Regions from separate parts of the Homo sapiens genome. Here regions 2, 3, 4, 5, 6 and 7 are each linked to region 1. The links come from fine-mapping of genetic effects on gene expression. A gene starts in region 1. Each other region holds a variant in brackets. All regions are shown on one strand. Distances are from middle to middle.

Region 1 (4,067 bases):
GACCCCCTTTCCAAGCTGCAGGCCCCACTGGAGGAGGGAGAAAAGTCTCCACTGGGAACCAAATTCAAAGATCTGGCTGATTCCCTGGGACTGGACATCCCAATTGCTGAATGAGGCTGTGCTGGAACTAAAAGCGACTTAAGAACTTTTGATTCCTGAAGGGGGCCCATAAGAGTTGTGGACCTACCTTAATTTTCATCCCAGGGCAAGGGAAGAGGGAGGACCTGCTGAAAAAAATTAGGGACAATGATAGGCAAAAATAAAGTTTGCTTCCATAATATACCATGAGTCCTGTGTATTTGACGTATGTTCTCTTACATATGAGGCAACTTAGCCTGGTCTCTGGCCAAAAAAGAGATACCACTCATTGAGCAATTCTTACCCTTTCAAATTCCTTCACTGTCGTCATTGAGCAATTCCATCTTCTTCAAGCAAGACAAAAGCTGATGCCAATAGAAAAATCATTTAAAATAAACAAACGAAAAAATTCCTTAAGCTGTCAACTTGGGTGCAGATGTTCTATGAAGCCAGAAACTGAATGTCACCCTCTATACACCATGACCTAGAGAAGCAGAATAACTCCAGACCAGCAGGGCTGGGCGGGTCTAAGATTCCCATACTACTTAAGAGAAAACTGAATTCAAATCCAGGCTCTGCCATTTAACAACTGTGTGACCCCGGGTGAATGACTTAAATTATCCGTACTTCAATTTCCTCATCCATAAAATAGAGATCATAAAGTATCTATCTGATGAAATAGCTGCAAAACAGTTAGAATGCTGCCTGGCACAGGGCAAAGGACTCACAATACACATAGCTATCATCATATATCATTGCCTCTCAAAGTGAAATATTGTGATGACCTTGGTTTATTAGCAGGATGTTGTAAAAAAAAATGCTTTACAAGGGGCATGATGACGAAAAGCGCAGATTCTAGAACCCGACTCCCTGGGTTTGAAAGAAGCAAGAATCTGAGGCATGTTGTATAAGGGTTTGCTATCATTACTATTCATTCAATGAGAGACATACAGTAATAGGTATACATATGCAATACATAGAGAAAGAGCTTAGTACTAGCAGCTATTATTAAGGCAACAGCCACCTCAGTAAATCTACATGGGCCATGAAGACCCTGGTCACCCAGAGATATCAGAGGCACTGAACAGGGCCAGACAGACAGAGGGTATTTTTCTAACTGGGAGGCTGCTGAACTTGACCTCTGTTGCTTTTCATTATTTATTTAACAGCAGATGGTGGCTTTCAAGAAAATCGGATGTCTTGAAGCCAGAAACCCATCCTCCTTGGGCTGGATACTCAGCCATCCCCTGCAACCCCACCCCCTAGCCCCAAGCTCTCATTGTCTCTCTTGTGTTACCTGGTCTGGTTTCTTCTTCCAGGGCAGGTCCCACCTTGCTGGGGAGAGGTGAATGACCATGGCCTTCCAGCCTCCCGAGAAGGGGATGTTCCAACGGGCGCAGAGATCTCTGGGCCTGGCTTGCCACTCACTGACCTGGGGCCTGAAGACTGACAGAGAAGCAGGCAGAAAATATAAAAAGCTGATACCCCCTGCAGGAAATCATTGTTTAGCCCATTCCAGACTAAAAAAACAAGTGCAACATTGGAGAAAGGAGGGTAAAGTGTCATTCGGGGCCATTGTTACAGCGGCTGCTCTGTGTGGTGGGGAAACAAAGCAGGCCTGTGTATGTGAGGACAATGCTGTTGTGTTACTAGCTGCTTCTGTGTTACTCCTGGGGACAGGAGGATGAGAAACGAGGCCACAGTGTCTTCCCTGGTGGACTTCACTCATCATAGTAGCCAGGCCAATCAGAGCTGGGAGAGGAATTTTGGACATTTAGCCCATGGCATTATGTAATAAGGGTCAGGGGACGTGCCTTCAGGTGTGACCACCTGCCTCTTTGTTAGTCTTCTATACATGAGAGATCACAAATGTCCCTCTCCTTTTCTCTTACTTGCTTTCAGAAACTTACCCCAAGTTAGAGCTGAAAAGAATGAGACATATCATTTCTCTAAACACAAATGTCATCCACTTCAATGCCTAACTTTTGTGATGGGACATCTGGCTGGGACTAAACCTCAGCCATGCAGCACGTTAGCAGCAGTTGGCAAGACTAGATGAATATTATAAAGCTTGCACCCACTGAACCCCCATAATGAACCAGACACTAGGTCATGAGCAACCTTGCAAAATGACCTCATTCGCTCCTGACTTCAAATTCTGACTCTGCAACTATTACCCATGGACTGTGAGCAAGTGTTTTCTCTGGGTGTTAGTTTTCCCATCTGTAAACCGGGATTATGATTGGGTTCCTAGGAGGATTAAATGAATTAATATATGCAAAACTCTTAGAACAGTGGCTGGCCCATAAAAGTGATCAAGAACCACAAATCACAAATTAGATGCCCACATTACACCTGAAACTTGCTTGTACTCATGAGGAGATGGTATGGGGATGGCTGGAAAGCCAGGATCCCAAGTGTCTGTATTTAGCCCTGTTACCTACTATGGCCTAAGTTCACCCTGTTAGGTCCCTGAAGGAATTGGGCACTAATAAATATTCTCAAGTATGAGACAGGTGACAAATGTGTGGAGAGGGCCCACTGTGATGCAACAGTGTGTGGCGGGAACTGTGGGGATTTGAAAGCTCACACCAGTCTTCAGAGGGCAGCCAGGGCTCAGCCTCAGCCAAATACTGCAATGCAGAAAGGTGGAAACAGCATGGTTGGGCCTGCACATTTTTAAAGAAAAGCCAGAAGGCTGGATTTTTTATGTCGAGTTTTCCAATTTTGAAACACTGTGGACCAAACACAACATTGTTAATGCAATGTGAGCCCTAGATCATGCAGTTTGTGATGCCTGATCTGGAAATTTCCAGATTTCCAGCATTTCCAAGCCAGTGCAACCCTGCTGACACTCAGAGCTTTTGTCCCCAACTTGCGCTACGGTCTGAGTGTATGCGTCCCCCACAAATTCATATGCTGAAATCTTCACCCCCAGGTGATGGTATTTGGAGGTGGGACCTATGGGGGGTGATTAGGTCATGAGTGTGGAGCCCTCATGAATGGGATTAGTGCCCTTATAAAGAGGCCCAAGAGAGCTCCCTTGCCCACAGCCACCATTTGAGGACACAGTGAGAAGACACCATCTGTGAACCAGGAAACCGTCCTCATCAAACATAGAATCTGCCAATGCCTTGGTCTTGGACTTCCCAGCCTCCAGAACTATGAGCAACACATTTCTGTTGTTGATAAAGCCACCCAGTTTATGGTATTTTGTTATATTAGCCCATATGGACTAAGACGACTGGTGAGCTGATCAGGCCACGTCAAAGCCACAAAGGGGGCATAAAGTCAAAAAGATTGATCAGCCCTTTCCCCCTGCAACCCACCCTCATCTCTGGACTGAGACAAAGGTGAGGAAAAGGGAAACTAGGGGAATAACAGGAGGGTGGCAAGGGCTCTCCTTAAAGGACTGCAGGACCCTGGGCCTAATCCACCTCCTGCAGGCATTCCTCTGACAAAGAAGGCAGCCAGGACTTAGTAGTGAAACCAAAGGGGAGAATAGGAGTTTATTTAAGCTTCCATAACCTTCATCAGTTACCTCAAATGAACCAAAGTAGCGTAAGTGACAAAATGTGTTTGCTATGCAAATGCACCTTAAAAACAAGACTGCTCACAATGAGATACCACTTCATACCCGCTAAGATTGCTATAATCAAAAAGACAGAACCAGTTACAAAATGTGTTTGATATACCAATGCAACTTCAAAACAAGACGGCTCACAATGAGATACTACTTCATACCCACTAGGATCACTATAATCAAAAAGGCAGAGCCAGATGCAGTGGCTCCCATCTGTAATCCCAGCTACTCAGAAGGCTGAGGCAGGAGGATCGTTTGAGGCCAGGAGTTTGAGACCAGCCTGAGCAACATAGCAAACATATGTTTTAGAGACAAAACATATTTTTTGTCTCTAAAACAAATAAAATCAAATTAGCTGGGTATGGTTGTGCATGCTTGTAGTCCCAGCTACTCAGGAGGCTGAAGT
Region 2 (4,067 bases), 25 kb before region 1:
AAAAGAAATGGTATGACCAAAGTACGGTAGGCAGATAAAAACAATATCTACAACAGTTCACTCTAAACCATAAATCATTCTGTTTTCTGGTGTTGTATATATTATAAAATTCATTTTGGGAGGCTCACCAAGAATTTATGGTGTACATATTGTTGGAGATATTTTACTGAGATACTTTAAAAAAGTAGATACCCTGAATTACTGGTAACATCTACTTTAAGCCCTTTCTAGGGAAAAACTGTCAGGCACACAGAAGATTTTCTGACTGCTGAGATAATTTCATTGATAAAAGAGCTGCCTTAATCTCTGAAGCAGTCAATGTAGGTTCATTTCAAAGAACATTTTTGAAACAATTAAGAATTATAGATATGTACAAACTGTTCAAAATAGTGATTCTGAGGAGTAGACCTGAGGGCTGGGGAGACTGTTATGGGTTGATTACATCCCTCACAAGCTCATATGTTGAAGTCCTAAGTCCCAGGAACCTCAGAGATGACCATATTTGGAGACAGAGGCTTTGAAAAAGTAATTAAGATAAAACGACATTAAATAAGTGGGCTTTAACCCCATATGACCGGTGTCCTTATGAGAAGAGATTAGGACACAGACACCTGCAGAGGGAAGGCCCCGTGAAGACACAGGGAGAAGATGGCCATCTACTAGCCAAGGAAGAGGCCTCAGAAGAAACCAACCCTGCTGCACCTTGATCTTGCACTTCATCTAGACTCCACAGTGTGAGAAAATAAATGTCTGTTGTTTAAACCACCCAGCTTGTGGTCCTTTGTTGTGGCAGCCCCAGCAAATTAATACAGGGACTTAGCGACAACACGGAGGATTAAAGCAGAGGCGGTGAACCCACGCTGATGCCTAACCTTTGCCAATCTTTGTTTCTTTCAGGGCATGCTGCTTCTGTATTCTCAGGCATGCTGTATGGGCACTGCCAGCCAGCTTCAGAGATGGGTCCAGGTCCTTTTAGACATGTTAGTTGATGCCCAACCTCTAGGGACACAATTTCTTTCTGCAGTGGATTCATGACCTAACCTGGGCAAATGAGCCTTGAGAGGACATATGCTAGAAGCTCATGGAAAAGAAACTTTCTTGCTTTTCTGAAAAAGCTACTGAGAGAGCCCCTTTACTCTTTCTACAGGATCTGGAGGAGGAAGCAGGCAGGCCCTGGGTCTACTGGCAACCATCTTGTGATCATGAGTTGAGACTATATTACCAGGAAATGATCCCTACAGAAGGCAGAGTGCAGAGAGGAAGAAAACAATCTGAGGACATTATTGAGTGCTGTATTAAGCGCAGCAAATTACATGGGCCAATAAATACCTTTTCTTTCTTAAGCCTGTTGTTATAACTGAATGCATCCTACTATAATGGTTAGAAAATAAAATATTTTTAAAATAGGCCTCTGTTACTTTTTTAACTTTACAGAAATAACTAAAAGCAAACAACAACATCAAAACTCAAAGAATTATTTTTTAAAATTCCATAATAAGAACTGTAAAAAATAGGAGAAACTTTCTTTCTAACAGGAGCCTATTTCTAGAAACCAATTAAATCATTACAAGTAATAACAATTTCTCTTTACAGAGTACCACATGCCAAGCCATGTACTAAGCATATTATATGCAGTATCTCATTTAATCCACACAACAATCTCAAGAGGGTTCTATAAATATCCTCATTTTACAGATGAGGAAACAAAGATTCCAAGAATTTAAATAATTTGTTTAATGTTGCACAGTAAGAAAAAGACTAAACAAAGATTGAGTCCTGATCATCTAACTCTGAAACACCTACTCTATACCAGTTCACACTCTGCCTTTCTAAGCAAGTAGCATGCATAGCTCTAATCCGTACACCACCTTACCAGGTAGGGCTTACAGCAGATGAGGAAATTAACACTCACAGACATTATGTAACATGAGGGAGGTCCCACAGCTAGCTAGTAATTATACAAAAAGATAAGCCACAGGGCACAGAGCGTCGTCTCAGAGATTAACAGGCAAGATGATGAATACATGGAAAAAGCCACCAAAGCTTGGCACTCAAAGAGCCCTTAAAGATTCCCAGTTCATAAAAAAAAATTAGCTGCGTGTGGCGGCAGGCACCTGTAATCCCAGTTACTCGGGAGGCTGAGGCAGGAGAATCGCTTGAACCCGGGAGGCAGAGATTGCACTGAGCCGAGATCGCACCACTGCACTCCAGCCTGGACGACAGAGTGAGACTCCATCTCAAAAAAAAAAAAAAAAAAAAAAGATTCCCAGTTCATCACCTTCTTTTTGTTCTTGAAGAACTGAGACC[C/T]AGAGACATTTCTTATCTTGCCCAGGGCAACACAGCCAGTAGGGGCAGAGGTACGACGACACAAGTCTTTGTTAATCAACATGTTTTTCTAATACACAAGACTGCCTTTGATGAACTGCATTTGCAGGGCACCTGCTGAATACACTTGATATGGGAACTTTTTCCTGTCTTAATGGAGTAGATCCAGCCTCCAGTACCTGTTTGTCTTAATAGAGTCCCCTAATTTTCCCTACAGAAACAACCTCTTTCCTCCTGCGTGCAGCCTTGAGAGGGCTGGTAAATCCCCCTCCCCTGGACATGCGACTTCAGTCACAACAATTGAAATTTCTCTCCTGGGAATTTGTAATTTGTCTATGCTTTATTTTGATAATAAATCTTTGTTTTCCCCCAAGGAATTTGGAATCGATTTCCATTGTCCACAACCTAAGAACCTATAACACTTAAGGCCTTTTTCAGTTGCAAGTGTTAGGAAACCCAAGCCAAATACACTTAAGCAAAAAAAAAAAAAAAAGGAAATTTAGTGTCGTCTTAGATGAGGGATCTACAAAGTATTGCTCTTGTGCCAAGCCCTCCCCACAACTGCCTGCCTTTGTAAGTAGTTTTACTGGAACACAGCTAAGCCCATTGGTTTATGTATCACCCATGGCTTTTGTACTCCAATGGTAGAGACCAGTAGCTGTGATAGAGACGACATGACCCACAAAGCCTAAAGCCCTTACTATCTGGCCCTTTACGGGCAAAGTTTGCCAATCCCTGACTTAGGTAGATTAAAAGTCAGGTGCCGCTAGATCAAGGGACTCAGATGACATTTCTAAAACCCAATCCGTCCATCTCTTGGCTTCTGTCTGCTTTCTTCCTTGTGTTAGCTCTATTCTCAGGCTCTTCCCTGTGGTAATAAGATGACTGCATCAACTCCAAACCACATCTTCTCAGCTTCATCCTGTCCACCAGCAAATAAAAGTCTTGGGCCAGGCCCTCACTGGTCCTAATCAGCCTTTCACTGTGGTCCCAGGGATGAGACTTGCTGATTGCTTTAAGCCAATCACGATTAACTGCAGGAGCTCAGAGTGCTTGCTTCTGCTCCTAAATTTCCTTTATCCCCTTTATTTCATACAGTGCCTACTCAACAGTTAATAATCCATTTTATTCCCAATCAGGAGAGAAAAAAGTGATGAGTATTAATGGATTCTATTATTAAAGAAAGCCTTGATATGTGATTTAGTATTAGGACCTTTCTAGTAAAAAATCGAGAAAAGTCAAGGAAATCAGTTCTCATCAGGCCAAGCTCTCATGAACAGCTTCCTTTGTTATGTTTAAGCCTCTGACATTTGCCACATAATTGAAACCTTCTTTTTGGCCTTTCCCTCCCATTTCCCTTCTCTCTCACCTGTCCTGTGATCCAACTTTCTCTCAATTTCTCTTCACTTTTCCAGATATCCAGGATCCTTCCTTGGCTATACTCCATGGCTGCTCAAATCTCCGTCTCCCTACACTACCTAACCTTTCCCCTGAAATCCTATCCTAGCACAAATTTGTGCACTCCAAAATTTCCTCCTTTTCTTTTCTGCACCAACCACTTGCACTTTTAGTTAGATGCTAGACAAGCAAATAGATTAAACTGAATTACATCAAAATGTCCATCGTGATTCATAGCTAACAGTAGCTCCACATATCCATCCCTCTCAGGCATGTTGAAAATGAGCCCAAACGAACACCAACTGGCAGGACTTCGCAGATTCACCAAGTTTCAGGGTTGGAAG
Region 3 (4,067 bases), 23 kb after region 1:
TCATCTTCTTTCTCTTTCTGAAGCTGGAGAGCAGAAGCCCCCATCTTTGAAAAGCTCCTGAGTGCAACTTAATTACCACCATGGCAGGGTGAGGGAACATTTGCATCGTCAGCTGCCTCTGCATAGCTGTTTGAGAAATTCAGGCCCAAATCATGCAGCCTATCCAATAAGTAAGTTTATTTCCAACATTAGCTCTAATTAGTTCATTTCCAATCCCAGAACACATGGAGGGAATCGGACAGGTGATGCCAGCAGTTCCTGCTCCTCTGTCAGGGAAGCCAGGCAGAGCCCACAGAGCATGGTCCATCCAGAGTGTTCCCTGAGCCCCCTCCACCATACTGGAACCCCTCTTCAGTGTAGGAAGTCTGAAATGGGTGCTAATTCCCTTCTTCATGAAACCAGGGCCCTCTTCCTTCATCTAATGCAGCCACTCCTAGGTGAAGAAGTGGGAATAATTGGAACTAAACAACAGTTCTAAAACTTCCATGATTTTTGTAGCTTCTTTTGTCCCCAAGTTGAAGCTTTTGGCCAGTACCTTCTCTAGTTTTTAAAGATGATCCCAACTTCCTAATTCCCAGCTAAGCCCTTGACCCATGGTGTGACATGAAATCAGGCAATTGAATCGCACCACTTTCTGTGTTTTCACCTGTTACGTAGAACAAAAGGAAGCAAGGTGGCCAGGCGCAATGGCTCACGCCTGTAATCCCAGCACTTTGGGAGGCCGAGGCAGGCAGATCATGAGGTCAGGAGATCGAGACCATGGTGAAACCCCATCTCTACTAAAAATACAAAAAATTAGCTGGGCGCGGTGGCGGGCATCTGTAGTCCCAGCTCCTCGGGAGGCTGAGGCAGGAGAATGGCGTGAACCTGGGAGGCAGAGCTTGCAGTGAGCCGAGATCGTGCCACTGCACTCCAGTCTGGGTGACAGAGAAGGACTCGTCTCAAAAAATAAAAATAAATAAAAAGGAAGCAAGGCTAATCATCAGTATGTGCTTGTTACAAGAGCTATGATGAAGGCACTCCTTCGAGTTTAACCAAATGAGATCATCTCTGTCATGTGCCTCACGCCTCACAGGGACTCCATGTGTGAAGATTCCCCCTTCACTCACCAGATCATCTCCATGGCAACAGCTTGCAGCCTGCTCTTGGAGTGCTTTGTTTTGGCAGCTTCTCTGCTAGTTTGTGTATGGAGTGAATGGAGGAGGTAAATCCACAGATTAAGAATATGCTGTCAGGAGTCAGGCAGCCAAGGTCAGAAGCCAGCTCTGCTTCTCAGTGGTAAGGTGCTTGACTTCTACATCTCAATTTTCACCCACTTTGTACTTTTTTCCTAAATTAAATGAGTATAATAGTAGTACCTACTTGATAGGACTTTTGTGAAAATTAAATGATATAATGCACCTAAAAACAGTACTGTTACAACTAATAGGAAAGGCTTTGATTATTAATGGATGAGAGTAGAAAGCTTGGTGCATTTATTGTCTCATCTACTATAACAGAGTTGGTGTGAGAATTAGTATTATCATCCTCCCTTTATTGACCAGGAAACCAGCTCATTGAGATTGAGTCATCTGCTGGTAAATGGTCTCATTAAGAGGTGGACCCATATTTCTCTAGCTTTCTCTTTACAACACAGGACTTTGCAAGGAACATATAATTCTGTGACTAGCGCCATTTGGAAAATGTTGAAACTGAAGTAGAGATGAGAGATCTTACGTCTGCCTACCCAGTGAGATACGAGGAAGGTCAAGGGAAAAAAAATTCCAAGCTCTTCTTTATCTGCTATAGGAAATGAACATTCAATTTTTTGCATGCAACGACAAGAGGTCAAGGACCCCAGAAGCCAGCCCGCTACTTCCAAGTTGAGAGCCCCTGGTCATACCCTCCAGTTGAGCTCAGATTTGTCACAAATTTACCCCTCTCCTTTCCTTCCATTCCCCATGACCTGCAGAGAGAGATGTCAGATACCTTCCTCTTGGCCTCCCATGGGCATCCATAAGAAACTTACTTGAAGCAAGAAGCCCAGTATAGGTGTCTGGGCAGTTGGACATTTCCTCTAGCCAGATCTGTCCGAATAGAGCCATCTGGGTACATGACGCAGAGGGCATTTGATAAATAACTGGAAAAGTCAATAAATCTTTGCTACCCTTCACCTCGT[G/C]ATCATTTAAGGCATTTGTTTTCCTCTGTTAGTGATGATGGATTGTTTGTAGATACCGTATTTCTGGTTGGCCTGGCCCTATCTCAGAAGGGCCTCCTGGCTCTTATCTGTTGATCTCAAAGGAAGTTGGCTCATTCACTGCTTGTCTGGTTTCCCAGTAGTACTTTGTGTGATGAAGCAGCTGTATACAAACTGTCCTTCCTCAGGGTGTGGCAAGGTTTGGATGTCCAAACTCCATCCACAGAAGGACAATGATCCATCTCACTGGTGCCTGTGCTGGCTGCCCAACACATCCCACCCAGCCACCCACCAACAGGGGTCAGCATCTGCCTCAATCCTGATCAAATGCATGTGCCACAGCGATTGTCTCATGAATGTTCATGATTCCAATCAGCCAATCTGAGTCTGTCCCTGGGGCTTTCTCTGCTGTAATTTCTGAGACCACCTCCTGCCTCTAGGCTCTGACAGCCAGGCCAGTGATGATGAGGTCCATCTTCCTGCCACACCGAAAGCTCATCTGCAGTCGGAGAGGCCATCTAGACCCCAGAGGTTGGGAAGAAGATGAGAAAATCTTGGTACCTGATGCCATTCCCACTCTTCCTCCTTATGTATTCATCAGGACGGACCAGGCTTGTGTTAAGGTGTACCCGGGATTTGTTTTAATCAGGAATGGCAAGACTCACAGGCACAGAGGTGATTGTCATGAGGAAGAAGTCTGTGCTCACAGAACCCTAGAAACAGGAGGCATGGCATGCCACGTAGGGCCACATGGGGAAGGACCATCTCTCTGGGGCTTTTGGGGAAGTTGGAAACAGGTGCTCTTTTTCCTTCCCGTTGATCATTAAACATTGAGTCCCTCGTCTCTAGGGAGGGGACTTCTTATTTACCCCTGGGTTGGGAAATAAATCATGACAGCAGCAATCAGACAACAGCAGAGAAGTGTGTGATCTGAACATCTGTGGGATGCCGTGATCCCTGGAGGAGCCCTTCACACTGATCCCATGAATGGCCCTCAACACATGCACGAGCAAGGAGCAAGCGTTCCGACAAGTGCTCTCGCAGTACTCCAAGGAAGAGGCTGAAATTTGACTCAGCAAAGCCCAGAGGGAAAAGGGAAAGTGGTTTATGAGTGTCCTCAGGAGCTATCACATCCTAGACACTAGGCACTTTCATCTAAATGACTCTGATGACCCCAGTGTTGTCAGTGCTCCTCAGTCAGTGGATCAGACTTGCCCTTGGCATGAGGAGGATAGTCAGTCACTCCTGGTCCCCTTCAGAGGGACCTTTTGAGAAAAAAATATAGCCAATTACTTATGTAACCCCAGGCACTCTGTCCTGAATCCTGGGCATTCCACCACCGTGGAGAAATAGGTTAGTCCCAGACACATGACACCAGCCTATGAGGCAGCTCCGGGACTCAGCTGCTCGAACGAGCGTCGCAATTTCAAGTTGGGAATTAACGGCAACACCTGACAACACAACACAATGCAGTAGCCATCAAGCAGGAAGCCCGAGCACTCCACTCTCAGCTGTACCTTGCCAAGCAGTGGCTGCTGTCTGTCGGGAGCAGGTAGCAAGTCAAGATCAGTCTAAGGACATTCCATGTCCATCTGGCATCAAACCACCCTGCTACCTATGCCAGTTGTTCTCAGGATTTGTTTTAATCAGGAATGGTAAGACATAAGGCACACAGACGTGGAAATGATTATCATGAAGGAAGAAGTTTGTGCTCATAGAGCTCTAGAAGCAGGAGGTGTGGCACACGGGGCCACATGGTTCGGAAGGATAAGTGTTGGTCAGGAGGCAGGGAGAGGGGAGAGCATGGCCCCAAGCCTTTATTGGGGTTTTCATAGGAAGGAATGGTTAAGACAAGGTACATATGCTGGCTAAGTTTAGGGTTGGATAGTTT
Region 4 (4,067 bases), 130 kb before region 1:
CACACACGTACACATACATGCACACAAATGTATCTCACACATTACCAGGTATCCATGACCTATTGACAACGGTAGTAGCTAAGTTTCCTCTCTTCCTAGTATTAACCCATTCAAAGCCACTGACTCTAGCCTGAGTTTCTATATCAAGCAAAACTCCAGTTCCAACAAAAGGAATTGAACTTTCTGGGCTTGGGGCAAAAGCTTATAACACACAAAACAAAGCCAGTAGATACAGAATAGCAGAAAGTGCAATCTGCAAACACACCCATGCTCTGAACCACCAAGATACCTAATGAGGTAAATAGGAAAATCCAGAACGTTTCATATCATCAGTTTCAAAAATTACAAGAAACCAATTATCCCTCAGAGCTGTTACTAGTATATAGTGTTTCTCTCGGAAACCCCAATTTTCCTTCCGGACACAATTCAAAACAGAGGGAAAGGGAAAAAAATCAATACTGGAAATGTCAGAGACTTTTCCAGCCAGTGCCTTATGGACGTGTAGCTGGGCTTCTGCAGATCACACAGCTTGTCTTCTCTGTGTGCAGGCATGAGATAAGCACAATTTTCCTACCTGCTTTCTCTTGGCCTCACCTGGGGTCATTTTCATTATTCCCCACTCAGGACATTCTGTGTTAAGACTCACAGAATGTAAATGAGAATGTTCGCTTTCAAAAGCAGAGCCACAGAAAGGGCTGTATGAGTGGCAAGCTCAGAGTTGGGGGTCAGGGTGAGGAGACAGACTTGACTGCTGAATGCAGATGTCTAGGCATGGCCATCTGAGCCTCTGCAATGCAGAGCCCAGCACCCAGGAAGCCCATCTTTCACCTTTCCCAACAGCCAGGTCCATGGTTTTGGTGACTTTCCTGTCCACCCCTGGGTTCCATTCCTCATCTGTCTCCAGGCCTTCCTTCTGCCCCTTTACTGGAGGAACACACTTTCTGGAGTTCCTCCTGACTTTCCCTCCTGAAACGACATCTGACAGTCAAATGTGAAGGCTAAGCTCGCCTCTACAAGCCTTCCCTCTGGGACGTGTCTCCTTATATGGAGATTTCTTCTGTAAAGTGAATGGTTTGAAACCAGCCCATTTTTAAGCAGTGCCTGGTAATGGGCTTTCCAAATCTGAGTCTCTGTTGAACCACCTGCATGACTAGGGCCAGAGCCAGGGCCACCTACATGATTATTCTTTGCATACTATTTTTCTTATATCAATCCACTTTTTAAACAAGTAAATACGTTTAAAACAGAAACCACAGCAACATAATTTACACTAAGTGGAATGGAACTCAATGATCAACTCAATGCCAACAAAATAATGTTAAGAAATCCTAACTAGTCAGCATCCCTAGCTGAAGACACTAAGTTCGAGGACTGCTCCTCCTTCTTCAAACGAGGGAGATTTCCAAGTCCTGGAGGAGGGGAGAGGACACCATGGTACAACTCAAGATCCTCTCTAGCACAATCCCAAGGGCGAAAGGAAAATAAAAGAGGAGAGCAGTTTCTAACCACAAGCCCTAATGTTATTTAATGTCATTGCACGCATCGCCTAAAATCATTTCAGTGATCTGTGGCAGAAAATCCCTCCCTCTCTCCCAGGAAGGTTTACTGAGTATCTACTTTGTTCCAGGAACTTTGTAGGGAGTGGGGAACCAAAAGACTAAAAAAGAAAGAAAAAAAAGCTGTGTGCCCACATGACACTTAAAATCTATTAAAAAAAGAAAAAAACAAAACTGTATCTAGGAGAGCCTTCTTTCCAGATCAGCACCTTAAATAAACTTCGATTTAAAACTGTGAAAACTAGTTCTC[G/A]CCCCACACCCCAGCAAGAGATTCTGTATTCACAAAGCAGCATTTCTGATTATGTTCCCGGTAGGAAATGACAAGTGGTTATTAGTTGTTAAGCATCTGGCATGCTTCGTAAGCAGTATTAACCGCCCCCAAAAACCTCAAGGCTTCCCAGATAAACAAGTCCCCACCCAAACACCCTTTCCTATCTGTCCTAGGGGTAACCCCCAGCACCAAAAGACAAATGACATTTAAAACCTGATTGAAACCACACCAAACCATGGAGCTTTTAAATGTCAAGGAGGAAGGCAATTCAACCCAGCAGGTTTCTCCAGGACTGACTGAAAAACCACTTCTCTGTAGTTAGCTTTAAAAAAAATCAATCAGTAGAGACAGCAAGAGAAGAGAGTGAGGCCAAGACTGACCTTTGAGTCAAGGGTGACTGAAATGATTCACATTTGTGACTAATTATCTCTCTCTTAATCTTTATGTTTGTCTCTCCCTGAACAGGAGCTGTCTTCCAAGCAGCTGAGACATATGACCCGATTGAATTCCAGGCTTCTGTTGGGTCTTGGTTTGTCCAGATTTAGAGGAGCTGTCCGTGTGTGTGTGTGTGTGTGTGTGTGTGTGTGTGTGTGTGTGTGTTTAAACAACTGACATGTCATTCTTTTAAAGTGCACATAAAAGTTTAAGCTTCCTGAATCTCATAAAGAAAAATTATAAAAGGATGCCTGTACTGTTTTCAAAACCTAAAATCTCTTTAAACTGTCTTAAAAGTATGCTCTATTTGGACACAGAATAACATTGCTAACTTGAAACCAAGATGTTAGGCATTTCATGCTACTTTCCCATTAAAAGAGATGGATTACACCTTAGAATAACACATAGGCACTTATATAAACTTAATAAGCACTTATTACTGTCTTACTCTCTGCTAGTCACTGAGCACTTTTTATAAATAACTTATTTAGTCTTCACGACAACCCTATAAGGTTTGGTCCTATTACTGCTGTTTCACAGAAAAGGAAATACAGAGAGGTAAAGCAACTTGCTCAAGGTCACATAGCTAGTAAGTGGCTATGCTGGGCACTGAACCCAAGCACTCTGCCTCTAAAGGCTGTGATCTTGACCACTACCCTATACTGCCCCCCTACACACTACGTACAGAGTGCTTTACATGTGTTATTTCACATAAAGCATATAATAAACTTTTAAGGTAAGTTGTATTTTTAGTCCCATTTCGCAGATGAGGAAACTGAGGCACAGGGAGGTGAAACAGCTTGCCCACTCAGCAAATGAGTGAGAAGTAGGGATTCTGACTTCACTAAGGTGCCGTCCAGTCAGTGACTCCTTGTCACTCAACACTCCCCATTCCCTCTCCACCATATGCCTTTGGTTAGAGTCATGAAAACAGCTTGCGTCTGTGAATTAGAAACTATCCTCTGATTGGTCCTGGAACCTTAAACTCACTAGCTTTATACCAACAATGTATAGACAGGGGAGAAGTCTGACTGATCCAGACAATGGATCCAGATGTGGTATGATTCAGGGTCCCCTGGGGGACCCCCACTACCCAAACTCTTTCAAGGGATCCCCATGGTCAAAACTATTTTCTCGGTAATACTAAGCTATTTGTTTTTTTCCCTTACATTCTCCACGAGTTTACAGTGGAATTTTCCCAAAACTACGTGGCATGCAATATCATTACAAATTGAAAGTGAAGCAGATATAAGAATCCAACTGTCTTCTATGAAGCCAGACAATGCAGAGATCTCCTTTCTATTTTATTCTGAGTTGTTTTTCATAAAAATGTAATTAGCACTAGTATGTAATAGGCTTATTACTTAAATACATTAAGACATATTTTAAAGCTCTTCAGGTTTAATTTCTATTATGGTAAAGATAGACATAACCCAAATAAGCAATACGTTTTACGAGTGTAAAGGGGTCCTGAGACCAAAATGCCTGAGAACTGCTGCATGAGACTGTGATCTCCATTAACTGCTGGGAGACACAGGAGTGGTGCCCCTCTGCAACGTGCAGCACACAGCAGGGACTTGAGATACGTAATTTTGTCTGTTGAAGGAATGTCCAACTGTACAGTATTGGCCACCCCTTTTAGGTCCATGCCCCCACATGCATGATAATGATGGATGCTCAGATCCACACAGCTTACCTGAAAATAGTCTGTAATGAATGATCCAAGTTCACTCTTCAACAGCCGCCTGGGGAGAAGGGAGAAGAGAAACACCGTCAAGCAGCCCTTGATGGTACAGCTCATGGTG
Region 5 (4,067 bases), 160 kb before region 1:
TGGGTTCTAGATGGCAGTGCCCAGACTTTCCCCACTACACGCTGCTGTGTCTCAGGTGACTGCTGCTGCCCTCAGAAGACATGTTCCTTGAAGCAGCCCACCCACTGAAGTCAAGTAATAGCAAACACTGCCCCCCAGCAGATGCTACACAAGAAGCTGACACTGGCGCCCCTCTTTGGAGATAAGAGACAAAACGCCAAGGAGCAACCAAGAATACACCAGGCATTGGCAGCGGTTCTTTCTGAAGCATGGATGCTCGTACTCTCCAAGTTACACATTTCTATAATGTTCCCACATTCTTATAATACCTGTATTACTTTTATGATCTCCAAAATCAATAACTATAAAACAGAAGCACCAGAAGAGTTCAGAGCAGCAAGGATCCCATTGAAAAACTGTCCTTAAAAAAAATGCCCTTGAGAACAATTCATTTCTCTCTCACTGCTGATAGAAGTACACACTTCAGATTGCTGTTGGGAAACCCATGTGGGGACCTGAACCCTACAACCAGTCTAGCAGGAGACAGGACGAGACCTGTTTAGGGAGCATTTGCTTCATGCAGATGTCTGGGCCTCTGAGACTGGGTACCTACCTGCCAGGAGGGGTTTGTGCAAAGGGGAGGGTCAAAGAGGTAGACAGTAGTGACATTATTTCTAATGTTGCTAGAGATTTCGATGTTTTGTTTTGTTTTTTGTTTTGTTTTTTTTTTTTTTGAGACGGAGTCTCACTCTGTTGCCCAGGCTGGAGTGCAGTGGCGCGAACTTGGCTCACTACAAGCGCTGCCTACTGGGTTCACGCCATTCTCCTGCCTCAGCCTCCAGAGTAGCTGGGACTACAGGTGCCCACCACCACACCCAGCTAATTTTTTGTATTTTTAGCAGAGACAGGGTTTCACCGTGTTAGCCAGGATGGTCTCGAATTCCTGACCTCATGATCTGCCTGCCTTGGCCTCCCAAAGTGCTGGGATTACAGGCATGAGCCACTGTGCCCGGCCTCGATAATGTTTTATAAGAGTATGGGAGACTCCTCTCTTTGGGGAAGGGGTATCTGGAAAGATACAGTATTAATGTTAGATTTTATAACATGGCTGAAACTTGGAAGAAAGGCTGGGACCAGAGAAGACAGAGGGTAAATCGAGAGAACAGGAAATCAACTTGCTTGGCAGACACATGCAGCATCTTTGTAGGAAATGAGAATTCGTCAGATGATTTCCGCAGGTCCCAGCCCACTGGGATGAGCCAGGGAAAGGTGTCTCCAGTGATCCTTGGAGGGCCCAGGCAGCAAATGGACAAGAGAAGCCACTCTGGCTGCTCACAGGCCAAGAGCTGGAGCCAGAGGGGGGCTGCCCTGGAGGAGGAGACCACAACACCACCTGTCCCCACCTTCAACAAACACTACTACCTGTACATGCAAAATGCTGCACTAGCTGCAGAGAAGAAAAGAAACATAAATCTGATGTGGGGCCCCCAACAGGGGCTTGAGCCCAGCACACTTGTGTACCTCCATGCATGTATGTTCACATGTCAGGGGCACGAGTTCTTAGGAGGAACTATTTACTAAGCATCCATGATATGCTAGGTACTGTACCAAAAAGGAGGTGCTCCACTGATGGCTTCTAACCACTTCGCAGAAGAACCTGAAGTTGAGATGTGGAATAACAACAGTCATAGTTAGTGATGAAACCAGGACTCAAACCCAGAGCTGACAGCACAGGCCCAGCTTGTGACCCACATACACAAATAACTGTTAGAACAGGTCAGTGTGGCAAATGTCAGGTCAGAGATAGAGACGACAGCACCCTGGAAATTCAGAGGAGAAGGAAGAGAAGTCACAAAGCCTATTTCAGATGGGCTGTGCTTCTCTAGGCTTGACTTACAGACTGAACCACTCACTCACAGGAGAGGTCTGTGCCAGGTCCTGGGATACAAAATCCCTGCTCTCAACGAGCAAGCTCAGTGTAAGGGAGAGGCTGAGAAATAGGACATGGCAATACAGCAAGGCAAGGCCAAGGATGTGGTTTGGGATCCAGGGGAGGGATTGGGGAGGTACACACAACCTCCCCGGGGAGTGATTCCACGGACGCCAGGCCACCTTTAGCTGGGCGTCCATAACATAGCAGGCAGCTCTACCTGGCCCTT[A/C]CCTGAGACAGGGCAGCTTCTTCCTCCTGCTGATCCTGAATGGAAGGACAGGGCCTCTGTGCTCAGCCCTCTGTGGCTCAGAAGTTGCTCCAGGCCACACAGCTGAGCCCCAGCTCTCGTGGTTTCCAAGGCCCTGCTCTCTCCACAGCTGCCTCAGCCTCTCTCCCCCTGCTGATGACTCACAGGAGAGGCTACAGCTCTTCCTTCTACTTTCTGGGTGGAATGTTTTCATTCCCAAGATTGGGTGTGGGCAGAGCCAGGACCACAGGGACCGCAAGGCTGTGTTGAGTCCCCCGGGCAGACAGCGTTTCCTTGCTAAGTTCCCGCCAGACTCCAGAGCCAAGCCTCAGACAAGTGCGTCAGCTGTGTCCCCACTGGGAGGTCAGGCCTGCTGGGCCCCTTGGGAGGCCTTAAAACTGAACGCCAGGCCCGGGGCTGGCAGACAGCGACCGACACTCTTGCTTCTTGTTCTCCTCCCCAATCTTTTTCTTCTCTGCTCCCGGGAAGGCAGGGCCCTGTCACCCAGGGAAGGGAATCTCCCACTAAGGGACTGATTACCCTGTGGGTACCCCCTGGGGCTCCAAACCAGCCCTTCCCTTGCAGTGGTGCCCTTTTAGCGGGAAGAGGGCCGGGTCCTGCCATTTCAGCTGGCATCTCCAGGCCACCTCTGCCTCCTCCTCTTCCCTTTCACACGGGGTGAGGCCAAGGGGAGGCTTTATTCCCTCCTCACTCACCAGGAGCCCTGCTGAACACTGGCATTCACTGGCATTCATCCCCTGCACCGGAGCCAGCAAGAGCAGCTCCTTTCAAACCCCCAGAGAGATGCAAAGCCTGGATAAGGCCGTCCTCGGGTCCTTTGTTGGGGACTTGGTTCCCAGGCTTTTGATCTCCCAGGCTCCCTGGCCAGGCCCCACCGGAGCGACCGCCATAATAAGGCCATTGTGACCCCAGCACACCAAGCCCGTGGTGGGTGTCCCTCTCCAGGCTGGCACCTGAAAGCCGTGAATGCTGGCTTGTCACGCAGAGAAGCTACAGTATCCTGAAGGAGAAGGGCCCTCCCCCAGGCAGACACAATGGAGGGAGGCCTGTGGGAGGCCAGGGCCTTTGTGTGGGAGAAGTCGAGCGTGCTGCTGAGTGTGTGCTCGGGAGGGCCCTGCAAACATCAGGGAAACAGCCTGGAGACTTCGGGGACTTGAAAGATGGGGCAAAGGCCAGCCTCTGAGGAGTCGGCCTTTTAAAAAAAAGTTTCACTATCCTCTTCCTCCTCCCTCAGCAACTCCCACTGTTGCAGAAAAGTGGCTGCTTTGGAGAGAGCGGCACGTTCTCTCTCACTCTCATCGTGGGCCTCTGACCTATGCGTACCCAGGGGTGAGGCCTGGCTGGCAGGAAGGGACACCTCCGGAGAATCCTCGTGCAGTCAAACACAGGCGCGGGCGCGTGGGTGCAGTGCGGAGCCCCGGGAATAAACCGCTTCTCTGGCTCTGGTCACCTACCCTGCGGGTGACCTGGAGACTGAAAGCACAACAGTACCTTGGAGGATGGAATGAGTTACGCGCCAAAACCCTGGTCAGTAATCCAGCGTGAGTGGTGGCTTCTGAAGGGATGAGTGGCCCCCACACCCTCCGCTGCCTACGACCACGCCTACCTATCCTCCGGCCCAAGTGAGCCACGGCAAAGCCCTCCCATAGGTAAAGGGGTTTATCACCCCCAACCCAACTCCTTAGTTTTTACTTCAGCCAGCGATCTCAATGCTCTCCTCCCACAGGCAAAATAAACCTTTTACTAAGGGGTAGACGGAGGCCCTGAGAGACCTCTCTTTATCTGGAAAGCAGTGTCCTCAGTCAGGATGGGCACTGCTGTGACCATTTTAGCTTCTTAGTATCCAGAGACATGGGGTGAAATGTCTGGCTTAGGATCCCTCTTGGGCTA
Region 6 (4,067 bases), 110 kb before region 1:
GTGTCCTTGACTCAGGACATGGAGTACTCACACCCTTCGGGTGTCGGCATCCTAGTGGGTGGCAGTGGGAATAGTGAGAAACATGGAGGAAACTGACGAAGAGCATTTATTGAGCTCCTAGTTATGTGGCACACTATGCTCGGCAGTCTGCACACAGAATCTCAAATTCTCCAACAGCCTCACAGGTAGGAGTGTATCCTCATTTTGCAGATAAGATCGATGCTCAGAGCTTTGCCAGGGGCCATACATTGGTAGATCCCAACTCAAATGGAGGCCAACCTAATCAGGCAGTGGTACCCCCCATGCCACAGGGGCAGGCAGGCAAAGAAGGGAGGCAAGTGAGTGTGTACTGTAAGGACCAAGAAAGTCCCTCTAAAGCCAGCAGCCAGGCCTCAGCTCCCCTGACAGGCTCCACACCAGACCGTGAGTCCAGTGCCCAGATCTGACCTTTCCAGAGAGGCCGGAAACCTGGAGTTCTAGGTGAGATGTCCAGATTTCTAAACAACTTTTAGGCCAAACCACATGCGCCAACCCCATGGGTTTCCAATCTGCCATTTCTAACAACCCTTCTTAACCTGAAAGCCAAGTCTGTTTCTCAGCCACAGCAGGTACAAGGTAGTAACACATCATCAGGCAGAGTCACCCAGACCAAGAAGAGCCCTCATCTTAATCCCTCCAAAACTAGGCTCCTCAGAAGGGCAATGCCCCCCTTACCTCATGATCTATTCATGAACCTATGTCCAGGTACATCAAGCCCAAATCTGGATAATGCCAGCTCTGTGTGGCTCTTGCAGCCCACTTACTAAGGGTTTAAGCATGTGGGAGGCTTGGGTTCAAATCCCAGCTCAGGCACTTACTGGCTACATGACTCTGGGTGAGTTATTCCACCTCTCTGTATCTGTACTTCCTCCTTGTAAGACAGGGATACAGTATCTATCTCACAGGGTGTGGGGAGTTTTAAAAGAGTTGACACATATGAAGCACTTGGAACCTGGCATATACTAAAAGGCTAAGCAAGTGTCTGCAGTTATCATTACCTCGTGGCATCAGGCCTGGGACTGGTCTATGGCATCAGCCTGTGAGCTGGATCCAGGCTCACCTTCCTCCCGTCCCCTCCCAGCTCTTCCCCCCTACTGTGGGTCCCCCTCTCTTACAGTCAACACTCTGTTAAAGAGATGGAAAAATCGGAGGTGGATTTCCCTTTGGGTTTCAGGCAACCAACTGACTCAGAAGGAAGATATTTCAACTCAGACCTGTCAGAGATCAAACACAATTCTTGGAACCTCCTCTTTCCTTGAAAATCTCTGGGGTTTTCTTCACACCACCTCCCCCCTCCCAACAAGAACAGAAGCAGGGTGGTTGGAGAGAGAAGGAAAATGTGCGTTTCCTGTCTCAGGCCGGCTGCAGATAACTGATCTCTGGTTTCCGGAAACTTCATCTCTGAGCATTTATTTCTGCCGAGAAAAAGTCCTCCCAGGGAGTTTGAGGAGGCAGGAGGGCATGGAGTGAGTGGTGGTGGCAAGAACGTTAGATCCTCAACTGCCCTTTCTGCCTGCTCCCACTTCTGATTTCAACTTGGATATCATTTTCTCCTAGGTCTAATTGTGTGCCCATCCTCCACATGCCCCCAGCACTCCAGATTCCACCATCACCCCTCTAAAAGCGTTGCCTGAGAACTACCTGCCCAGTTCCTCTCTCATTCTGCTGTAAGATCTCCAAGACACAAACCACCTACTCAATGACCACCCCAGTATACAGCCCAGTACTGGGCAGAGCACTCCACATTTATTCAATAAATAAATCAATGAATCAATGGCCCCTGCTTCGACACACACACCCCAACACTCAAAGACTGAAAGCACTTATAAGAACATTGGCAAGCAGGTTCTTCAAAGAACCAGCAAACATCAGTCTTGCTTTTTTCACACTTTTCTAATTCTTCTCGGTTACATAAAATCAGTGGGAGAGGTGGCAGAAAAGACTGTTTAGGGAGAGTGTGCTCTTGTGTCAGCTTAGCTGCTCTTGTTCTTGGAAGGGCTCATGAAACCCAAACCTCTAACCCAGACTTTTCCTCGCTGCCAAAATGCAGCCACATCAGGGGTGAGGCTGGAGAGGGGTGTTAAAAACCGCACTAACACCCCATTGAGAATTCAAAACAAGAAGACTCCCAGAATCAGCCCGAACTCTGGCAGATGGAAATTTAGGGAAGCCAGAATTGTTGATTGGGATGCCTGGGGATTTAGCTAGAATACGTCTATTCTGAAAGGTCATTTTCTTGCCTTGAGAGATATTACAATGTGCAAGCTGTGCCTAAGGCAGTTTCAATGGGAAATATTCTGATTTATGGTTTTCATATCA[A/T]TAGACCATGTGCCCTGACTTTTACATGGGACAACATTGGCCGCTATATTGAGGTGAGACGTTTCTGATGGATTTTTTTTTTTTTTGAGACAAATTCTCTCTCTGTCCCCCAGGCTGGAGTGCAGTGTGGCACGATCTTGGCTCACTGCAACCTCTGTCTCCCAGGTTCAAGCGATTCTCCTGCCTCAGCCTCCCAAAAATAGCTGGCTGGGATTACAGGCGCACACCACCACACCTGGCTAATTTTTGTATTTTTAGTAGAGTCAGGGTTTTGCCATGCTGGCCAGGCTGGTCTCAAACTCCTGACCTCAGGTGATCCACCTGCCTTGGCCTCTCAAAGTTCTGGGACTACGGGGTGAGCCACCGCACCTGGCCTGACAGATTTATTCTTAAAGGGTGGAGAAACCTGTCTTTGGATCCAATACTGTGTTTTAGAATTTGACCATCCTCAGTCCCAAGTTCTTCCTCATAATTACTTCAAAGTCTATCTGCTAACATTTAAACTAGAGTCTATTTTCAAAGACATGTCTTAAATGGAAAGGCCACTTATAATAATGACTGCATTACAAGACTCAGTTACATAAAACATCTACCTTCCTAGTCATCCTTTGCATTGGCTACTATTTAAATAAATTTGTATTTCCCAGGTACATACTAACCCTACAGATAGAAAGTGGCCAGGGTGGCTGGGATGAGTGACCCAAAGAATCTGATTTAGGCTTTGACTCCAGACTTGGATACTCCATCAAAAAGTTTATTACCATTTGGGTTCAGTAGAATGGAGAACTGAAAAAGTCATTTCCTCTTGTTCTTTTCTCTGTGGAAAGGAGAAACAGCTGGCTCTCCTTGTAAGAACTTAGCCTCACCCAAACTTCAACTCCAGGCACCACTCTTTGAGGATTCTGTCCCAGACTCTCTAGTTCAAAGTGAGCTCACCTCATCCAAACTGCTGGAGAAGTTTTTTCTGAGACAGGATCTTGCTCTGTTGCCCAGGCTGGAGTGCAGTATGCATCATCACGCCCAGCTTTTCATTTTATTTGTATTTTTTGTAGAAACTGGGGTTTCATTAAAGCTGGTCTCAAACACTTGGACTCAAGCGATCCTCCTGCCTCAGCCTCCCAAAGAGCTGGGATTACAGGTGGGAGCATGACACCTGGCCTGGAGAGGGTTATACACAGCACTATTCATGGGGCAATTCATCACGTTGGCCTGTGTTCTCATGCCTCGTACTCACCCATTATGTATCACTTTACTATTTCTTAACTGTTCACAGTAATAAGAATCATATGGCTAATATTTATTAAACCTTTATTAAATTACCAGACCCTGTGCTAAGGATGCTTTTAGCATTATCTCAATCCTCCCAATGACCATGAGGTTAGTGCTATTATTATCCTCATTTCATAAAAGACAAAACAGACTTAGAAAAATGAAGTCACTTGCCCAAGGTCACACAGCTAGCCCAGTCTTGATCCCTGGTCTCTCTGAATCCAGAAACTGCTCTCTTTGGTTAAAAATTTCCATTAAACTTAGCACAAACCCTCTTGCATATAACAGGACTGTCACAACTGAAAAATGGGCTGAAGAACTGAGGCTTCTCTGTTTGCACATCTCTTTCTGACATCCCTACCATCCTGTGCCCCACCCTCTCCACCAATCCTGCCTCAACCATGTTGAGTTGATAGATCTGTTCTGCAAACAAGTCTTCC
Region 7 (4,067 bases), 67 kb before region 1:
TTGATCCCCAAATCTCTGCATTTAACCTCTTTACTAAATTCATTCCCTCTATCTAATGACAGACCTCACGAGAGAAGGAAAGGACAAAGGCAAGTCCCATTCACAGTTGGATAGTTAAATATGTGTATTAATTTAACCCCCAAAAATGTTTACTATGCATAGCTCTCAGCACATCACAAGTGTCAACTCATTAATTCTCCTAAAACATGAAACAACACTATGAGCCCAGTGCAATTATTATTATTTCCATTTCACAGATGAGGAAACTGAAGCACAGAGAGGTAAGTAACTTGCCCAAAGTCACACAGCAAATGGCAGAGCTGAAATTCACACCTGGACATTCTGCCCCCACTAGTCTGTGGGTTTAACCACCACAGAGTGCAGCCTGACAAGAACATGCAGGTGCCTTATTTAAAAGTGAAATACCCTCCCAAGACCAGTGGCTAAAAATGGTCTCTAAGAGGAAGGCAGAGCCATCTGTAGACCTGGAAATTAAACAGGGCCATGGAGCTTGAATGACTTAATCACTGTTCAATTTAGATTTCCTGGTTGAAAGGGTTCCTGTTCGTCCTACTGGAAATTAACAGCCGATTGCTTCTTGGCATTCTTGTGGGAGGGGTGGGCCATTTTCCTCTGGCCCAGCTGTTTCTGGAAGAGTAAGTGCCTTGCCAGTGTCAGGCAGGTACAGAAAGACTGGTAGGTAAAGGGGACCAGATCCCTTTGTCAAGTGAGCTTAGCAGAAATCAGTCAACTCCTGCTTTTTCTGCTGGTCTAGGAGCTGGGGCCCTTCCTCCACTCCTTGCAGGAAACCTGCCCGGGGGTTGATTCATCTCTCAAAGGCGGGTCAGGAGGAAGGGGAAAAGAAAAGACAAGAGTCAGGTCATTTATTATCAGAAGGGGCAAAAGAGCTTCTAAGGAAGCGGTGAGGAGCTGTAACCACAGCATCTGCAGAAAAGGCATTGAGCTATTAACAGTGAATTCTGCTTAGTACAGTCAATCTGTCCCCAGCTAATCTGGAAAGAAAGATATGAGCTCCCAGAGGTCAAGGAGTGATGTCTGCCCTCACACTTCGAAAGCACTCCAGGAATATATTTTAAATAACTTGTGTCATGAATGTAAGTTAACAGCAAAGAATTGGGCTTACTTTTCTCCTGGTCCATAAATATTTGCCTCTCTTTCTGTCTCCTGGTATGATGCAAAGAATGGTGTGTGGAATCTTGACCACAGCCTCATTCCCGGCCACTCTTTCCCTCTCACCTCATCCTATGCCCAGGCACACTGAGATGCCTGTGGTCTGGGAAAGGCAGTAGTTATTGCACACAGGTCGAGGGTGCAGAGACAAACCAGGCTCAGGCCTGGTCCAGTGACATAGCCATGTGAACCTGGGTGCACGACTTAACGTCTCTGGGCCTGGAGAACCTTGTTCTCTTTCTCCCCCTTAGAAATACCCACTTCCCCTGCAGGAGCCAGGTCAAAGGGCTGCCCTGCTCCTCCATCCCAGGCAGGCTGCCCAAGCACTCAGCACACACACCACCCCCCAGCCCCCACCCATGCAGCATTTGCCTCCTCTTGTTACAGTGATCAGTTTACCTGTCTGTCGCCACTCACAAATTATAAAATCAATGACAGCACATTATTTATCTTTGAATCCCCAATATCTAAGCAATTCCTGGGCTATAACAGAGAATCCATAAGACCTTTTATGGAAGGAAGGAGGAAAAGTGGAAGTGAGAAAGGAAAGATGGGTGGAGAGAAGAAGGGAGGACAGACATAATTGATTATGCTTTCAAACAGAAACAGCAGGCATGGTGTGAGAAGTGCTAGAAAAACATTCTTTCCCCAATATGTCAATTCTGCTTGCCCAGTGTCTAAAACGTCCTTTTTTGGAGATTTGTTCCTGGGGTAAAGATACTGTCTCCGGTTCTCCTTGTCATTGTTTCCCACCAACCACCGCCCCCGTCCGCCCACCCCCACCCCGCCAAGGGTGATGTGTGAAACTGTCAATAGCCCAGCACCTTAGCATTCACTTGCAAGATAGATTTTCTAAAGACAAGTGGGGAAAAGGCACGTCAGCACTTTGGTGCTAAAAGTGAAGGAATAGGGTCCTCAAAAAGGGAAGGGAGGGATCCGTTTCAGTGAGTCAGAGTCATAAGAATGAGAGCATGCGATTCCCATACCCACCCTGCCCTGCCCTCCCATCAGAAGCATTCTCCCTTGCCTACATCACTCGGAGCAAGTTCT[G/C]TTTTCAGGACGGAGCCGGTGACCGGTTCGCCAATGGAAGGCAGGAGTCTCTGGTGACTGCCTGCTGCTTCCGTGCTGACAGAATGTCTTTTTTTTTTTTTTTTGCCTTTTATGTACTCATTTGTTATTACTTCAGCACCCCCCGACTTTGAACTTGGTAAGGGAAAAGACTCTCTCTACTAGCATCCTCCAAACTGAAAGGACCCTCAGAGGTCACTTTATCCAACTGTGCCTCATGCTGGAATCGTCTGTATCACCTCTCCCAAGCCCCTCGAGGGAAGAGAGGCTCGCGATCTCTCTTTAACAGCCATTCCATTTTAGAAAACCACAAGAGTTAGATATAACCTAGAACCTGCTGCTCTAAAACAAAGGAGAAAAACAAGTAAAAACAAGTGACTTGTGTTAGGTCACACTTAGGAAAATTCTGCAGAAGTCCAAGGGTAATGAAAAAGGTTGTCTCTTTACCTCATTTTTTTCAGTAGACATTGATTTGCCCACATAAATGAACAAGTATAAGCAAACACACTATCGTTTGATCACATTCCCACAATGATTTCTTTCCTCTGGTAGAAACAGTAAATACCTAGAGATCAGTGACTCAAACTTTTTGAACTCAGTAACCCTTTAAAGTCTTAGAAATTATTATGAGCCTTAAAGTCTTTTGTTTTTATAAGTTATATCTGTTGATACTTAACATATTAGAAACTAAAACTGAGAAAATCCTTGGTTATTTATTAATCGATTTAAAAATAATTTTAAAAGCCATTACAAATTAACATAAGTAATGTATTTTTATGAAAAATAGCTATATTTTCCAAAAGCAAAAGGTATATATAGCAAGAAAAGTGGCTTTGTTTTTTATTTCTGCAAATCTCTTGAATATCTGGCCTAAGAGATCTGGATTCTCGTATCTGCTGTGCACTTAGTCTGTTGCAATACCAATGCCATGTCACCTCCGGAAAACTCCACTGTATACTTGTGTGAAAATCAGAGTAGAAAAGGCAAATAATATATTAATGTTGTTAGTCTTGTTAAAATAGTTTTGAGCTCATGGACCTCCTAAAAGGATCTCAAGCAACTAAGATGAGTTACATAGGTGGGGACCAGTGCAAAGTGAAAGTGCTGTTTCTTGTCCAAAAGTTATAAAGCATTTCAAGACAGCCACAGCAGAACATTGAACTGAGCTCTGAGCATGGGGCCCTGCGTGACTTCACAGTTCCTGCAGGCAACTTCAGGGGTCTCTGACCACATGTCGAGAACTGCTGCTGTAGAGTTATACTTGCTTCTTGAATCAAATGAGTGGCTTAAGACAATTAGTGTACACCAGGGTGATATCAAGTTAGGAGTGTGTGCATGTATGTGTGTTTGAGCTGCTGGATCACCAGGTGTAAGTGTTCTTGAGTAATAACATATACCTAACAAGATAAAAGCATGACTTACACAGATTTTCCCCCTGGGTGTATATCATAAAACCTTACCCTCTTATTCAGCCTATTATTCCACACTGACCCTAAACATACACACACACATGCATTTATGCATGCACACACATACGCCTTGAGCTGATGGCTTGCATGCATGTGGGTGTGTGTGTTACATGTGCGATGTTACATGTGCACATACCCCTTTGTGTTCCAAATGGCTGCACACCAGATAGTCAGATATTTGTCATGGTTTCCTGTTTTGGGTTTTTATTGGGTGACAGGCTTTGATCAGCAAAACTGACATCTCTCGTCCCCATTTTCCTGTTTGGTACCTTATACATAGTAGGCACTCTAAGCATTTGCTGAGTTATATTTTATAACTCTGGTGGTTAGAGAAAATTA

Which allele goes with the higher level. Positions count from the first base shown, and alleles are read on the strand shown. Sizes are in standard deviations (SD) of each study's normalised expression. Not every link is listed here.
As copies of G replace C in region 3, the expression in pancreas of the gene that starts at base 1,526 in region 1 goes up (small effect, 0.33 SD a copy in GTEx).

Evidence for each region.
Region 2: its variant is fine-mapped to the expression of PRR5L in whole blood (TOPMed, PIP 0.99).
Region 3: its variant is fine-mapped to the expression of PRR5L in pancreas (GTEx, PIP 0.96).
Region 4: its variant is fine-mapped to the expression of PRR5L in whole blood (TOPMed, PIP above 0.99). The same link has a PIP of 0.9 or more in blood mononuclear cells.
Region 5: its variant is fine-mapped to the expression of PRR5L in whole blood (TOPMed, PIP above 0.99). The same link has a PIP of 0.9 or more in blood mononuclear cells.
Region 6: its variant is fine-mapped to the expression of PRR5L in whole blood (TOPMed, PIP above 0.99).
Region 7: its variant is fine-mapped to the expression of PRR5L in monocytes (Quach 2016, PIP 0.95).

The regions. Positions count from the first base shown.
Region 1 is chr11:36,293,747-36,297,813 of GRCh38, reverse strand. PRR5L (proline rich 5 like) reads right to left here and starts at 1,526. Exons shown (of 9, transcript NM_001160167.2): 1 at 1,376-1,526.
Region 2 is chr11:36,318,434-36,322,500 of GRCh38, reverse strand. The region is part of intron 1 of PRR5L (proline rich 5 like); the gene reads right to left. Among named protein-coding and RNA genes, the nearest start is that of PRR5L, 24 kb to the right of the region's middle. The variant C/T (reference allele first, on the strand shown) is at 2,308.
Region 3 is chr11:36,270,377-36,274,443 of GRCh38, reverse strand. COMMD9 (COMM domain containing 9) reads left to right here. Exons shown (of 6, transcript NM_014186.4): 6 at 1-2,152. Among named protein-coding and RNA genes, the nearest start is that of COMMD9, 17 kb to the left of the region's middle. The variant G/C (reference allele first, on the strand shown) is at 2,159.
Region 4 is chr11:36,419,195-36,423,261 of GRCh38, reverse strand. It overlaps PRR5L (proline rich 5 like), which reads right to left. Exons shown (of 9, transcript NM_001160167.2): 4 at 3,959-4,007. Among named protein-coding and RNA genes, the nearest start is that of TRAF6, 89 kb to the left of the region's middle. The variant G/A (reference allele first, on the strand shown) is at 1,807.
Region 5 is chr11:36,454,252-36,458,318 of GRCh38, reverse strand. The region is part of intron 8 of PRR5L (proline rich 5 like); the gene reads right to left. Among named protein-coding and RNA genes, the nearest start is that of TRAF6, 54 kb to the left of the region's middle. RefSeq lists an enhancer at 2,544-3,068. The variant A/C (reference allele first, on the strand shown) is at 2,139.
Region 6 is chr11:36,406,659-36,410,725 of GRCh38, reverse strand. All of the region lies in intron 3 of PRR5L (proline rich 5 like), which reads right to left. Among named protein-coding and RNA genes, the nearest start is that of TRAF6, 100 kb to the left of the region's middle. The variant A/T (reference allele first, on the strand shown) is at 2,359.
Region 7 is chr11:36,360,337-36,364,403 of GRCh38, reverse strand. All of the region lies in intron 1 of PRR5L (proline rich 5 like), which reads right to left. Among named protein-coding and RNA genes, the nearest start is that of PRR5L, 66 kb to the right of the region's middle. The variant G/C (reference allele first, on the strand shown) is at 2,242.